Regions from separate parts of the Homo sapiens genome. Here all the other regions are linked to region 1. The links come from fine-mapping of genetic effects on gene expression. A gene starts in region 1. Each other region holds a variant in brackets. All regions are shown on one strand. Distances are from middle to middle. Region 1 holds the start of TOX2 (TOX high mobility group box family member 2). Region 2 overlaps TOX2 (TOX high mobility group box family member 2). Region 3 has its middle 50 kb from the start of LINC01728.

Evidence for each region.
Region 2: its variant is fine-mapped to the expression of TOX2 in whole blood (TOPMed, PIP 0.99).
Region 3: its variant is fine-mapped to the expression of TOX2 in breast (GTEx, PIP 0.96). The same link has a PIP of 0.9 or more in ileum.

The regions. Positions count from the first base shown.
Region 1 is chr20:43,912,273-43,917,494 of GRCh38, forward strand. It overlaps TOX2 (TOX high mobility group box family member 2), which reads left to right and starts at 2,580. Exons shown (of 9, transcript NM_001098797.2): 1 at 2,580-2,718. The coding sequence starts at 2,620. RefSeq lists silencers at 2,231-2,350, 2,451-2,550, 2,571-2,680, 2,731-2,820, 3,891-3,950 and 1 more and enhancers at 2,317-3,034, 3,035-3,752, 5,131-5,190.
Region 2 is chr20:43,948,544-43,953,765 of GRCh38, forward strand. The region is part of intron 1 of TOX2 (TOX high mobility group box family member 2); the gene reads left to right. Among named protein-coding and RNA genes, the nearest start is that of TOX2, 36 kb to the left of the region's middle. RefSeq lists an enhancer at 2,032-2,121. The variant C/T (reference allele first, on the strand shown) is at 2,902.
Region 3 is chr20:43,842,493-43,847,714 of GRCh38, forward strand. No RefSeq gene overlaps it. Among named protein-coding and RNA genes, the nearest start is that of LINC01728, 50 kb to the right of the region's middle. The variant C/A (reference allele first, on the strand shown) is at 2,587.

The sequences.
Region 1 (5,222 bases):
GGCATTATTTAAAAATCTATTTATACTATGTTTCAGACCTATATTGCTAAGTAACAAATCACTCCAAAACTTTGTGGCTTAAAATAACAATAATCATTTATTATCTCTCATGGTTTCTGTGCATTTTGGATTCAAGAAGGGCTCATCTGCACAGTTCAGCCTTTTTCATGTGGGTACAGTCAGATAGCAGATGGAACAGGAACAGCAGGAGCTGGCAGAGCTGGGGACTGGCTAGGAATCCCTCTTTACTTAGTATCAGGGTCTCTGCATATGATTTTTCTGTGTGGGTTAGTTTGGGCTTCTTCAATGCATGGCAGCCTAAGAGAGAGTTCTCATATGATGGCTTAGTGTTCCAAAGACAAAAGTCCTGAGAGAGGGAGCCAGGTAGAAGCCCTATTAATTTTATGATCTAGCTAGCCTCAGAAGTCACATAGATTCACTTCTGTCACATTCTTTTTGTTAAAACCCATTCGCTAAGACTAATCCCTTCCCGAGGGGAAGAGTGTTAGACTCTACTTCTTGGGAAAGGTGTCAAAGAATTTGTGGACATGTTGTAAAACAACAACCCTGTACTGACAACAAACAGAAAATAAAATAAAGAAGCCATTCATAATAGCAACAAAAAACACCCGGGGCTAAATTTAATAAAAGATGTGCAAGGTCTCCACGTAGAAAACTACAAAACATTGCTGAGATAACTTTTTTAAAAACCCAAAATAAATGAAGGGACATACCATGTTCATGGATAAGAAGTTTTACTATTGAAAATGTTAATTTTATTCCAATTGATCTAAAGGTTCAAAGTGATACCAATTGAAATCCCAGCAAGATTGTGTTAGTGTGTTTGTGTGTATATATATAAATAGGTATGCTGATTCCAAAATTTCTGTGAAAGTGTAAACATCAAGAATAGCCAATGCAGTCTTAAAAGAACAAAATGGGTAGGCTTATTTCATGGGACATTTAGACTTATAAGCCCACAGTAATCCAGACATTGTGATAATGGCACAGGGAGAGAAAAATAGGCTAACAGAACAGAATAGAGAATTCAGGAACAGTCTTATGCACATATCGACTACTTGATTTACGACAATGTTAGCATTGCAGAAGAGTATGTGTGTGTGTGTAGGGGGGTGGTGGTGGTGGTGGTGATCTTTTCAATAAAGAGTGCTGGTCAGTTGGATATCCAGATGAAAAAAATGGACACAGGACAATGGAAATTTTTTTCTGATGAGGTGTGGCATTGTATTTCTAGAAACAATGACTGCTGAAATTTATTTGGAAGTTCTTTCCTTTCTGAGCTATAATTTCCCTCTGTTGTTCCCAAGCCTTCAGTGAATGCCTGTTTCCCACACCTATCTTTTGTTAATGCATCTTTCTTATGGTCCTAGTTCTAGGCCAGGACCAGCAAAGCCCAAGCAGCAGTTGAGAACTAAGTTCTAAGCTAGCTCCTGAGTGGGCAGGAAGCTCAAGTCCTTTTCTCCCAATGGCATCCTATATCCTGGTGCCACACAAGAATGCCATTCTGGCTGACTTCGCCTCCTGGCCTCTCCCAGTCAGACATACCTGGAGCAGTCAGTGAGCAGTGAGATTGCTAGGGGAGATTGCTAGTGTAGACAATTCTTGCATGAAAAGGGGGATGGGGGTGCAACAGTCTAGCAACCAGCAAGTGATATCAAGAACTAGAGGGTTTTTTTTTTTTTTTTGGTTGGGGAGGAACCCCATTTCACAGTCACCTTTCTGACCCACCATCAGAGCCATCCCATTCCAATCTCATTTTCTTCCTTTCCTCACTCCAAGAGACCGTGACTGTGGGCAGATCCTAGACCCCTCTTCAGAGCTTCGGGCTCTAGGCATTCCTGCGGCCCTCCCCTCCCTATCATTAAAAGGGGTGGGGTCCTGCTGCCTTCTCCAAGTGGTTTCAGCTCTGGATCCTTTGGGGGCAACGGAGCCCACCCGCCTGGAGCTCCATTACTGATGCTGCAAGTTTTTGACTCAGTTTCCCCATATGTGAGTGAGAGTTTAAGCGCGGCAATCTCCAGGGGGGGCTGTCAAGCTGACTCAGATCAGTGAGACGAGGAGGGGGCGGGCATGCTAAGAGCATCCTCCGGCGCTGGCCTGCGTCCCCCCAGGTAAGGCAGCACCCATCTCCAAAGTGGTCCTGTCACCACCTTCCTCTTCCCCCCGCACCCACGCCGCGGGGCGGGGACTAGCGCCGCCTCAAATATTTAGGGCAAGGGAGTGTCCCACTTCTGGGGAGGGGTGCCGTTCGGGCTTCTCTCCTCACCGTGGGTGGCGAAAGGCGGGACGGAAAAGCGCCGTCTGGACAGGCGCGCCCCCCTCAGGGATGCAGGGCCGGGCGGGGGACCCGGCGGCGGCCCAGCCCGGAGGAAGGACCTCCACGCCCCGGCCCGGGCCCCCGGGCCCCCGGCCCTAGGCAGCGCCCGAGGCCGGAACAATAGCGCGCGCGGGCGGGGCGGGGGCGGGGGCGGGGCGCTCCTCTGGGCACCGCCCCCGGCCCGCCCCCCGCGCTCGCAGTCCCGCTCGCACACTGGCTCCCACCCGCCGCCCGCCCAGGCACTGCCCGCGGGAGCCGCCGCCGCCGCCGCCGCGCCCGCCATGGACGTCCGCCTGTACCCCTCGGCGCCCGCGGTGGGCGCGCGGCCCGGGGCCGAGCCGGCCGGCCTGGCGCACCTGGACTATTACCACGGCGGCAAGGTAGGCGGGGGCGGGCGGGGGTCCCCGGCGGGCGGGGCCGGAGTCACCTGGCAGCTCGGGACTCAGGCGCTCCCGGGGTCACACGGGGCCGCGCACATCAGCCCCGCCGACGGGCACGGGCGGCTCACATCGATCCCCTCGCGGCCACGCTCACGCCCTGAGTTGTTGGGATCGCGGGCAGAAGTCATCCCGACAGCCACCCGTGCGACGACACAGTGGCCCCTCACTCGCGTCCCCCTGACAGCCTCGCAGTCATTCACAAGCCGTCACAGTGACCCACAGCCACACGCAGGCGGCCAGGCACTGCTTACACGGTCCCGCCGTCCCACGCAAGTCACCCTGACAGTCACTTATACACAACGACACGCAACCACTCACCCGCAAACAGCCTCACCGCCACAGACGAGTCACCCACAGACGCTCCGATGCCCCACACACCGTGACATGCCCCCACCCGCTGTCACACCCAGGCACAACGGGGGACAGTCACACAAAGAAGTCGCCCGACAGTCACACTCTCGCAGCCACAACGCCTCACCCAGGCGCACGCTGTCACACACAGCCACCCCCCTGGACGGTGAGCCTCAGACACAGATCGTCCTGACGGCCACACAGTCACACGCGGTCACACCCAGGGACGGCCACACCTCGGTCATCCACACTCGCGCGTCGAGGTTTAACTTCTCAGCGCCGCAGCACACTAATTGGGCAGTTTACTAATTGGCCGTCACTGCCTGGCGGGGCCTCGGATTCCGAGTAGGCTGCGGCCAATCGAGGCCTGTGTCCTCCCGGGAGCGGTGAGCCGGCGTCCCTCCAGGCTGGGGCTGTAGTGCCGGACACCCTCCCTCCTCCATGTTTCCAGGATCTATCCCCCCACCCCAGCCAGGTCCCAGCTGCGCTGCGCCGGGCGCATTCCCAGTGATGGAGGCTTGCGTGCCTGGAACCCCGAACCCGAGGCGTCAGGTCCCACTGCCGGGTCTGGCCCAGCCTGGATGGGTTGGGTGCCTCTAAGCAGTCCGCGTCCCCTTCGGTCGCCGGAGAGGGAACTTTCAAACTTAGTTAGGAAGCCAGACTGTCCGCGCGTCCGCCAGTCGGTGCGTCGGTCCCGGGCCGGCTGGAGCCAAGCGCGGGTTTTCGTCACTCGGAGCCCGGATTGAACAGCGCGCGTGGGTTTCCCGCAGCCCTGGCGCAGACGCGTGGGCTCCGTGGCGATGCGGGGTGAGTGCGCGTCCAGTGGCTGGATCGGCGCCCCCCAGGGTCTCTCCCCAACCTCGCAGGCTTTTCGTCAGGCCCCTGGTAGTGGGGATGAGGCAGGAGAGAGGCGTCCCGGCGCGGATCCCGGGGCCTCCCGGGCTGGGCCTCCCTGAGTGCGCCCTCAGGCCCCAGGGGAGCGGCTTCTGGCAAAGCCTCCCTGCAGTTCGCCAGGGGCAGCAAGCATCCAGGCCACTAGGGCCTGCGCGATGTGGGGCGGTGGTGGGCGACAAGTGAGGTCTCGCGAAGAGTGGCGGTGGTTCTCTTTTGTCCAGTGACCTGCAAAGTTAGAAGCCGATGAGGGGGGATGGTAGCCTCAGGAGAAGGCCGGGAGCTGCCTCCAGTCTGATGGAGGAAAATAGATTAAAAGTAGCAAGTGGAGTTTTCAGGGAGGAGAAGGTTGGGTGTGGGGGCAGCTGGTCTGTCTTCTGCCCTTGGCTTTGTTATTTTTCAAAATGTGAAGTTGGCGAGGTAGGTACCAGCCTCTGGTTTGCGGGTGTGGGTGGGCTGGGCATTTGTGCCTCAAAGTCTGAGTGGGTGGGGGTTTAGCCTGGAGCGCTCCGTTTGAGGGTGGTGTTTCTATAAATCTCGCCAGGGTGGGGCTGTCCCAAATAGGGGCCTTTGGAGGCAGGACTCAGCCGAGGCCCCTGCTTTATTCTGATGCTCTGTAAACCTCTGACTCAGCACCAGAACCTGTGCGAATCTCGCCGGGAAGGGCCCGTCAGGGAGGGAATGAGAAGCCGGCGATTCTGGTTTCTTTCTGTGTGGGATGTAGGACCCCTGGCCCATAGCTGAGGATGTGTCCAGAGTGGGGCGGGGCAGGGATGGGGGTGGGGATGCAGCTGAGCCACTTGATAGGTGAAAGGAAGGTCTGACTTTGCACTTGGATGTGAAATCTGCTACTCAGTCCTTCAGGCTAGAGCAGGGTGAGGCGGGAGGGGAGAGGTCACTGTATTCATTTAGGGGCTAGAGGTCTTTTGGTAAGGGATTCCCAAGTGGGCATGGCCTTAGTGGTGGTGGTTGGGGGGTAGGGCCAGGCTGTGATCAGGAACTCCCCTTTTCTGGCTCAAGAAGTGGATGGGGAGGGGTTGGGGAGGGAAATGCCCAAGCTCCACCTTTACACTAGTCACTATCAAAGCTGGAGGGGAAACAGGCTCAGGGTGCAGTAGTGACCACACTTGGGGCCTGTAGGCCTGGCTGAATCCAGACATTGTGGGGTGGACACACCCACACATGGGGGGCTCTGTCCGCAG
Region 2 (5,222 bases), 36 kb after region 1:
GGGCAGGGAGGTGAGGTTTCCAGTGGAGGCAGCTGGGGGTCTGCTGGGGCAGCCTCTGTGCCACCCACTGGGAGGCCCCGGGCCTGCTGGGGCAGCCTCTGTGTCGCCCACTGGGAGGCCCAGGGCTGCCCAGGAGCTGCCATCTCCGTCTAGCCAGGGGGCCTGGCAGATGTTCACACATCTGGACAGTTGCAAAGGGAGGCATGAAATATAGATGGGGAGATGGGGAGTGAATTCTCCAGCTTCTCCTGGGCCTGGGGAGCCATTTTCCAGGGAGGGCCTCGGGAACCTCCTGCTGTTGGGTGTTGAGATGAGCCTGGAGTAGCAATTGGGTGGACCTGGATTTTTAGCCTTTGGTCTCTTGACTTCTAGTTGTGAGGCTTGAGGCAGCTCACTTAACCTCCCTGGGTCTTCCTTGCTGTGAAGAGCAATTGAGGCCATGGGAGCAGCAGCCCCCTAGTCATGGGGGGATTGGTGTAGAAAGGCAGCTTTGATTTGCATGTCCTCACCCCAGGGGCTCATCTAGAAGGAAACAGTTACTCTCAATGGCCCTTTTCCTGATTCACACCCTCCGTCACCTCAAAATGCCCCTTCTACTTTGTGCCCACTTTTTATATATGACTGTCCACCCCTCGGCTTAGGCCACAAATGTGGGATCATCTTTGACCCCTTTCTCTGCCTTACTCCTTGCATCTAATCCAACTGCACTTGCTGCTGGCTGTACCTTCAGGGTGCAATGACTTCTCCCCGCTTCACTATTACTTGTCACCGGGATGACCGCAGGAGCCTCCTCCCAGGCCTCCCTGCCTCCACCCTTCCTCCTTAGTCTGTTCTTCTCGCAGCAGCCAGTGGGATCTCTGAGAACCACCTGATGCGCACATCCCTCCCTGCTTAAAGCCTGTGGTTGGTTGTCTTTTGTAATCAGCTGGATCTGTTCTGATACCTTTAATATACCCACCTGGGGGAGCTGGGCACCTGTCTGATCTCACTTTTTGCAGTCCACAAGCTAGCTTCTGCCTCCTGCAGAATCACTGTCCTGCCACCTCCTAAATCCGCTTCCCCACTGACCAAGCTATTGTGCCTCTTAATTTTACTTTCAGACCCCTTTGTCTGGAATGGTTCTTTTACCCCTTGGACTCCTGTTTATTCTCGCAGGTGTGGTCACGACATCCACGGCTTTCCAGAAGCCTTCTCTGATTGCCCCCACCGTCTAGCCGCAACTATCAGAGCCAGGGTCCCCTTCCCTGTGCCCGCTTCTGTCATTGTCCTCCCCATCAGTGCTGTGATGCTCTGGGAGGACATCACCCACGATGATGCACCTTTATTCTCACACGTGCTGCAAGGCCAGACAGCACAGAAATGTTAATTTAGGCAGTAGATGCAAAAGACCTCCCTGCAAATTAAGGGCCTTCAGACCTAGACAGACTGGAATAGGATCCTCAAACTGGTTTGATTTGGCTGTGACCTTGGACAAGCCACCTAGCCTCTCTGCTTTGGAGGGTCACGAGGATTGACGAGATGACATGTATAACAAACATCCTCCTCTTTCCCACTTGCTGGATTGTAAGTGTTCCCAAAGACACTTGGAATGTTTAACCCCTCACATCTGCTCTGAGCAGAGCAAACTCAACAATGCATAGACGAGCCCACCACAGAACCCCAAACAGGAGCAAAAATAGCAGCCATCGGGGCAACCTGAGATGCAGAAGCCACAGGAAGAAGCCGCAGGCCAAGCGGATGTCAGCGGCTCTGAGGCCCTGCTGAGGTTCCTCGGATGTGCTGAGCTCTGCAGCCCTCTCGCCTGCCCTCGCTGGCTCCCCAACCACAGCATCAGATAAGGCCGGTGGAAAAAGTGCTGGCTTCCTCTTTCTGGGGAGGGGTAATCTCAGTGCCATCTGTGGGGCACACTCCATCCCCAGTTGCCTCTCTGGCCTCCCCTCCCCCTCCCCACTGCTTGCTCTGCCTGTCTTTGCTGGTCTCTTTGCTGACCGAGGTCACACCTGCCGGCAGCTCCCATCTTAGGGCCTGTACACAGGCTGTCAGGCCCTGGAATGCTCTCCCCAACACATCTACTTGGCTCACTCCCTCACCTCCTTCCAGTCTTGGCTCCACTATCACTTCCTCAATGAGGCCCACCTTGACTGCTCTGTTTAAACGTGCATACCCTCCATCTCGACATTCCCAATACCCCTCACCTGCTCAACTCTTTCTTCTTTCCATATACCATGTAAGTCACTTATTGACTATGTGTATTGTTTTCTATCTCCAATGCAAGAGCGTAAACTCCAGGGGTCTTTGTTCACTGCTGTCTCCCAGGATCCCAGAATAGTGCCTGGCACAAAGTAGATGCACAGCAAATACTTTTTTGGTGCACGGACGCATGAGTACATGAGTAAGAACCAGCCCAGCAATCAGAAGAGGTTCAGGCTAGATTTTGGGGTGAGGGGGGTTTGTTTCTGGGCTCCAGGCCCCAGGGATGGGCTCACGTAGTCATTAAGGATTCTGGCCCCATGATTGACCTGCATTGGCCAGAAGCCCCTGCTGACCTTCAGGGCGATAGCTGTCTGGGGCCAGAGAAGGGTCTGGAAGCCTGTGGTCCCTTTCAGGAGGGACCCTTGCAGTAGTTAAGAGTTTGGCTTTGGAACCACATTGCTGTGGGTTTGAATCCCAGCTCCACCACTTCCTAGGTAGATAGCCTTCACGTCTACCTCTCTGTATTTGAGTTTTCTACCTTTAAAATAGAGTAGATAGGCCGGTGTGGTGGCTCACGCTTGTAATCCCAGCACTTTGGGAGGCTGAGGCGGGTGGATCACTTGAGTACCGGAGTTCAAGACCAGCCTGGCTAACATGGTGAAACCCCGTATCTACTAAAAATACAAAAAAATTAGCCGGGTATGGTGG[C/T]GCACACCTGTAATCCCAGCTACTCGGGAGGCTGAGGCAGGAGAATCACTCGAACCCAGGAGGCGGAGGTTGCAGTGAGCTGAGATCGTGCCATTGCAATCCAGCCTGGGCAACAAGAATGAAACTCCACCTCAAAACAAAACAAAAGTAGTGAATTCTGACCTTGCTTGGGTGGTGATTATGAGGGTTACATGCAATATAGATAAAGTGCCTGACTCATGGTAGATGATCAGCAAATGACCATTACTATTAAACTTATTATGTTTTTTTTTTTTTTTTTTTTTAGAGAAAGGGTCTTGCTCTGTCAACCAGGCTCTAGTGCAGTGGCATGATAATAGCTCACTGTAGCATCAAACTCCTGGGCTCAAGCACTCCTCCCATCTTAGCCTCCTGATTAGGACTACAGGTACATACCACCATGCCTGGCTAATTAAAAATAATTTTTTGTTTGTTTGTTTGTTTGTTTTTTTGAGGCCGAGTCTCGCTCTGTCGCCCAAGCTGGAGTGCAGTGGTGCGATCTTGGCTCACTGCAACCTCCACCTCCTGGGTTCAAGTGATTCTCCTGTCTCGCCCTCCCGAGTAGCTGGAACTACAGGCATGTGCCACCACACCCGGCTGATTTTTTTTTTAAAATTTTTAGTAGAGATGGGGTTTCACCATGTTAGCCAGGATGGTCTCGATCTCCTGACCTCGTGATCTGCCCGCCTTGGCCTCCCAAAGTGCTGGAATTACAGGCGTGAGCCACTGCGCCCAGCAGAAAAGTAATTTTTTTTTCTAAGAGACGGGGCCTTGCTATGTTGCTCAGGCTGGTGTCAAACTCCTAGTCTCAGCTATCTTCTCGCCCTGGCCCCCCAAAGCTCTGGAATTACAGGTGTGAGCCACTGCCCCTGGCCTAAACTTAACTGAGCATGTTAGGGTTATGCTGCCGTAACAACCCCCTGAATCTCAGTTGCTTATCATAAGGAAGGCTTATTTTTGCTCTTACTATGTGTTCCATGACAATCAGCAGAGAAGTAGGGGTTGGGCTCTGCTCCACAGATCACTCAGGGCTGTAGGTTGGTCAAGTCTCGACCATCTGGAACCTTGCTGGTCCTCTAGAGAAAGCCTGCAGATCTCAAGTTTGCTTTTTTATACTTCTACCCAGAGGAGACCCACGTTGTTTCTGCTCATAACCCATTGGTCTAAACTAGACGCATAGCTCCAATAAATGGTAAGGGGAGCCTGAGGTGTAGTGTCCTATGTGCCAGGAAGGAGAGGAGAGCCAGATATTGGAGAGCAGTAGTAAAGTCTACCACAGCAGGTACTTCCCTCTCTGCCCTCTCCAGACATATAGGCAGACTGAGACACAGTTAGTCGGTACTTACGGGACTCACTGTGGGTGGCTGAATAATGACCCCTAAGTATAGCTAGGTCCTAATCTTTGAAACCTGTGTATGTTACTTTAAATGGCAAAAGGGGCTCTGCAGATGTGATTAAGGGTCTTGGGATGGGGAGAGTATCATGGGTTGTCTGGGTGGGCCCTATAGGATCACAGTGGTCCTTATAAGTGAGGAGGGGTTGCAGAATCAGGAGAAGGTGATGTGAGGATGGAAGCAGAGACTGGGGTGACGGCTATGAAGATGGAGGAAGGGACCACAAGCTAAGGAACACAAGCAGCCACTAGACACAGGGAAAGGCAAGGAAATGGATTTTCTCCTAGAGCCTACAGACCAGCCAGCCCTGATGACACCTTGGTTTTAGCCCAGTGAGGCTGATTTTAGACTTCGGGCTTTCCAGAACTGTAAGAGAATATGTTGTTTTAAGTCACCTGTTTATGGTGATTTGTGACAACAGCCCTAGGAAACTAATATATCACCTTCAGTCAGAAAATCATTTGAGACCCAGTGCATAGAAGCCGCCTCTGTCTGCTCAGACAGAACTGACCCCTTCCTCCTGTCTGTTGTGGCGCCCCTTGTACCTGTCTGTCATCACGTTCATGCACAGGCAGAGGTGTCTCTTAACATAGTCCTTCCACTCCCAACCCGCATGCTCCAACATGTATGCCCACACTCTCAGCCACTCTTTGAGCCTCTCATTGCTTGGGCTGATCCGGGTTGGTGTGTGTCCACGTCTGTAGGAATGCAGGGCAGGCTGGTGGCAAGGTCAGTGTAAAGGACTTGTCTCTGGGGAAAGGGCCCTGGCATGCCCCAGGAGTGGCTCAGTTGGCGGGAGAGTAGAGGCCCTGTGGAAGATGGTGGGAGGGTGAAGGATGGGGCTGGAGAAATCAGCAGGGACCAGGTCAAGCAGGACCTTAGGACCAAGAGAAAGAGGTGGATCTTTGT
Region 3 (5,222 bases), 70 kb before region 1:
ATGCAACCACGTGGAAGCCAGGCAAGGCTGGGACAAGGGGAACATGGTGACTCTATCTCCCTGGTGGGCCTGGTCCTGGGGTCAGGAAATTCATTCTGCCTGCCTTGGTTCTGCCATTAGCTACTGAGGCCAGAGTTCACGGACAGTGGGCAGCTGACCCAGATCCCATATCTCTTCCCAGCTGTGAAAGCTTCTCTGCCAATCAGCCACCAGAGTCTTCAAGGCTAAATAAGAGGTAATGAGTCCGCTAGAAAAATGGGTCAGAGGCCAATTAACTCAGGCTCAGATGTGGCTGAGAGCCTGCTTTAACTATGGCAATGCCTACAGCACGAGGCAGAGCTGGGGGATTGGACCTTTCGAGAGAGGGGTTGAAGATGGAGCCTCAAATGTCTGAGGGGCCCAGGGCTTGCGGGTGAATCAGAGTCCCAGGCCAGCTTCCTGGGGACTTGCTACCTGCCCTGCCACCTGGCCCTTGGAAAGCAGACAAGGGCATATGCCACATACTCAATGCTTTGAGTATCATCTCATTTAACCCTTTCAACAACACGGTGTGAGATGCTGTACAGTGGCTGTCCCCATTTTATAGATGAGGAAACTGAAGTGCAGCAGGGGAGGGAACCTGCCCAGAGTCTCACAGTCAGTAATGGGAGGAGCTGGGATTCACACCCAGGTGAGCTTGACTCTGGGGTAGGGCTAGAAGGTGCACTTTCTGTTATAGTTTCACCCAGGGTCAAAGCCAGGCTCATTTAGGCCAGGCTCTTTCGTGCAGCCAGATGTCTCTCTGAGCTCTTGTTCCAGAGAGCCAGCTGCACTGGGAGGTATCTCTGTAGGTCCTGGGTGCCTCATACCCTCCACACTCAAACCTGAGCTCCCCTGACCTGCCCCTGCCCTGTCCGCCTCATGGAGACAGGAGACTGTCCACATGGAATTAGACTCCCAAAGCCATTCTGATCTCCTGCTGCTCCCTCAACCTCATACGCAGTGATCCATGCAACAAACATACACTGAGCATCTGTGATGTGCCAGGCACTGATCTACGTTCAAAGGAGGAACCAGTGGACAAAATCAACAAACATTCCTACGTTCCATCTCTCAGGGGCTGACTCAAGAGGAAACATGAATAAGCAAATGATGTGCCCCGGGGACTGCCTTGGAGGATGTGGAGCAGGGTGAGGAACTGGGAATCTTGGAGGAGGTTGCAATATTTATTGGGGTAGTCGGAGTGTGCCTTATTGAGAAGCTGACCCTTGAGCAAGATTTTAAAGGATCAAGAGAATGAGTCATGGGGGTATTGAAGGGAAGAGCATTCCAAAGAAGGGGAACAGCCAGTGCAAAGGTCCTGAGGAAGAAATGGCGCTTGCAAGCTCAAGGAATAGCAGAGTGTGGGTGAAGAGGAAGGAGTAGGAAGAGGAGAGAGATCTTAGCAGGAGATGAGGTCAGAGAGAAGACAGGGAGCGGGCAGATCATGCGGGGCCTTGTAGAACAATGCAAGGCCTGGCTTTGACCCTGGGTGAAATGATGCCATCTGATTTACCTTCAAAAAGGCTCACTTGGAGAGGGGAGGCAGGGAGGCCAGTGAGGTGGCTGCAGCCAAATTCAGGTAAGAGAGGAGAGGGTGGCTGGGACCGGGGAGAAGGGGTCAGATTTGAGTGTGTTGTGAAGACCGAGCTGCCAAGGCCTCCTGATGGGTTGGACAGGTTGACAATTGAGAAGGGGGAGTCTGCAGGTGGGGCAGGTTTGGGGAAAGATCAGGAGTCCCGCTTTGGAGCTGTGATGTGGAAAGCCCTCCTAGACATCCCAGTGGAGCTGTTGAGAGAGTCAGGTTTATGGGCTTCCAGATGGGGACAGAGGTCTAGGCTAGAGTGGCTGGCATGTGGGTAGATATGGTCACCAAGGGCTGGCCCCCAGGGCCTTGGGGAGAAGAGGAGGGATGAACAGAGGCAATGAGAAGGAGTAGTTGCAGGGTTGGAGGAGAACTAGGAGAGCTGAGCTGTGCCGGGTCAGGTAAGATGAGGACTGAGCATCGCCCAGGAGACTTAGCGATGTGGAGGTCATCAGGGGCCATGTGGGTGAGGCCTGGCAGGAGATCCTGTGTCTGAGCAATCTATACCTTTTATCCATGTGGCAGGCTGAATAGCAGCCCCCATGAGGTGCCAGGCACTAATCCCTGCAGCCCCTAAATATTGATATTAGCTTATGTGGCAAAATGGTCTTTGTGGCTGTGATAAGGATTTTGAGATAGGAAAATTATCTGCTAATTTATGGGCCCTACATACAATCCTTATAAGAGAGAGGCAGAGGGAGATTTGACACAGACAGACAGATGGCAATGTGACACCGAGGTAGAAATTGGAGTCATGCTGCTATAAGTTAAAAAGTGGCACAGCCACCAGAAGCTGGAGGAGGCAAGGAATGGATTCTGGCCTGGAGCCTCCAGAGGGAGCACAGTGCCCTTGACTCTTTAATTTCAGCCTAGTGATAATGACTTCAGACTTCTGGCCTCCAGAGCTGCGAGAGAATAAATTTCTGTGGCTTTAAGCCATCATGTTTATGGTAATGTGTCATAGCAGCTACAGGAAACAAACA[C/A]GCCCCTTCTGGCATCAGGTCCCCTACTTCCCACCCTCCTTAGTCATCCTCTGTCCCTCATCCAACAATTGTCACAGCCTCATCACCAGGCTCCTGCTCCAGGCTGCCCCAGCACCTGCCCTCCCCACACAGAACCTGATGGGGTAACTTCGATTCCTAATACCCTCTGCATGGAGCCCACATTCATTAGCCTGAAGCCCAGTGCTTTTCCTGATAAAGCCCTAACAGTCTCCACACTCATTTCTCACCACTGGCTCCCACCACTTATGCTCCATAACCTCCATGCAATTTTCCTTTGCTACATGTTCTCTTAAGCTTCTGAGCCATTGTACTTGCTGTTCCCTCTGCCTGGAACACCCTTCCCTATCCCAGAAATAGGCATGGTTTGTTTCCTCATCGAATTTAGGTCTTTACCCAAAGAGCTTTTCTGATGACCATTTTAAAAGTGCAACTCCCTTTTCAGCCCCACATTCCTGATTCTCTTCCCCTACCTTGTTTTTCTCCGTGGTGCTTATCACTCACTATATATGTATTTAACTAATTTGTTTGTTGTCTTGTGCCTCCAATTAGAATTAAATTCCACAGGGGCAGGGAATGTAGTCTGTTTTGTTTACACTTGTATCTCCACCACCAAGGAATATGTCTGACATGTAATAAGAACTCAATAGATATACGCCGAATGAATGAGTGGGTGTATGAATGAATGAGCAAAAGAGACAAAAAACAAAACAAAACAAAACAAAACAAAAAACTAACCAGGTGTGGTGGCACATGCCTGTGGTCCCAGCTACTCAGGAAGCTGAGGTGGGAGGATTGCTTGAGCCCAGGAGGCGGAGGTTGCAGTGAGTTGAGATCATGCCACTGCACTCCAGCCTGGGTGACAGAGTGAGACTCTGTCTCAAAAAAAAAAAAAAAAAAAAAAGAGACTCAGAAGGAGAGGTCAGTGATATAGGAGAAAAGAAAGCCAGGAGCACATGATATCTCTGAGGCCAAGAGAGTTAAGTGTTTCTTAAAAATATAGAAACTTCTGAATCATCCATTGTAAAAATGAGTCAAGTCTAGGTATAATGCTAATGTATTTTTATTGCATAAAACTTTTTCGGGGATTTGATTATTGGCATGGCCTACCTGTGAGCCACAATATTTATTCAACAAAAGACCCATTCAGCTAGTTCCGCCAAACTCTTACATTCTCTGTAGATGAGGACGCCTTAAGTGCTGAGCCCTGCGCTATGCTTCATGCTGTGATTTTCCCACCAACCCTTTCCATGGGGTCTAGGGGCAGGTAAACAGAGTGGCCCCTCACCGTTTCCTGATCCCATTTCCAGGAAGTAACTAGCAGGAAAAGCTTGATGTGTAGCATGGTGTGTCTATATAAGGAGACACAAAGCTATGTCATTTTGAAAGTGGTAGTCCACGAATCCTATTATCTCGCAACTGTTCTCCCTCCCCAGTCCCAGTCATCTGTGGACATCTTTCCATGTCATTATTGAAAGATCTGTGTCATTTCTCCCATCACTTTAGGGCCACCTCATCCCACCCCAGAGTAACTATGGAGACCAGTTTACTGTGCGCCTTTCCTGGTGTGTCTGATCTTAGTCTCACCATGATCTGTCTATATAAACATACACATATATACACACAAACAACGCTGTGGGGAGGGACGCACGCCCTGTCACAGAGCAGCAGCTGCTTTCTGCAGACCAGCTCTCTCACCTGGGAGTCCCCCACAACCCATTCCCAGCCTCTAAGAAGCCCACGAGCAGGTGTGGGCTCTCCAGGGAGGTCGTGGTGGGGAAAGCAGCCCTTTCTGTGAGAGATGAGAGCGGGGAGCTGGGGATGGGCGTGTTAATAGTCCTCTCTTGCAACCTACACATGCTACTTTAGTTTTAGCAGGTCATGGCATCACACTTGAGTATCGGCCTGCGTCTTGCTTCCTTCACTCACCAGCTTATCTTAGAGCACTCTCCATGTGGAAATGTACAGGTCCACCCCATTGTGAGTGAGGGCTTCATAGAATTCAACAGGATGGCCAGGTCACACTGTATCCAGCTTCCCTCCCAGGGATGGATCCCCATGCAGTTCCGATCTTCTCCTTGCACGTTTGGAGGCTGGGGCTATTATCAATATCTTTACACACTAAACATTTACTTTGTGTAGGTAGATTCCTACACAAGTAGTAGGATTGCTAGATCAAAGGGCAAGGACATTTAAGATTGTAATTGATGCTGCTGCCGAGTTATTTTTTGCTATTATGGTAGCAAGTCACACTCGTCCTCCGTGCGGGTGAATGGATCCAGATGCACGTGGTTGTCAGTCCAGGCAGGGAAGTGGATGAGTAGGGAGGCACAAGGGAGCTTAAGAGGAATGGGGGCGTGTTCTGCCTTTTTTTTTTTTTTTGAGGCAGAGTCTCGCTCTGTTGCCCAGGCTGGAGTGCAGTGGCACAATCTCGGCTCACTGCAAGCTCCGCCTCCCAGGTTCACGCCATTCTCCTGCCTCAGCCTCCTGTGTAGCTGGGACTGCAGGCGCCCACCACCAAGCCTGGCTAATTTTTTGCATTTTTTTTTTAGTAGAGACAGGGTTTCACCGTGTTAGCCAGGATGGTCTCGATCTCCTGACCTTGTGATCCACCTGCC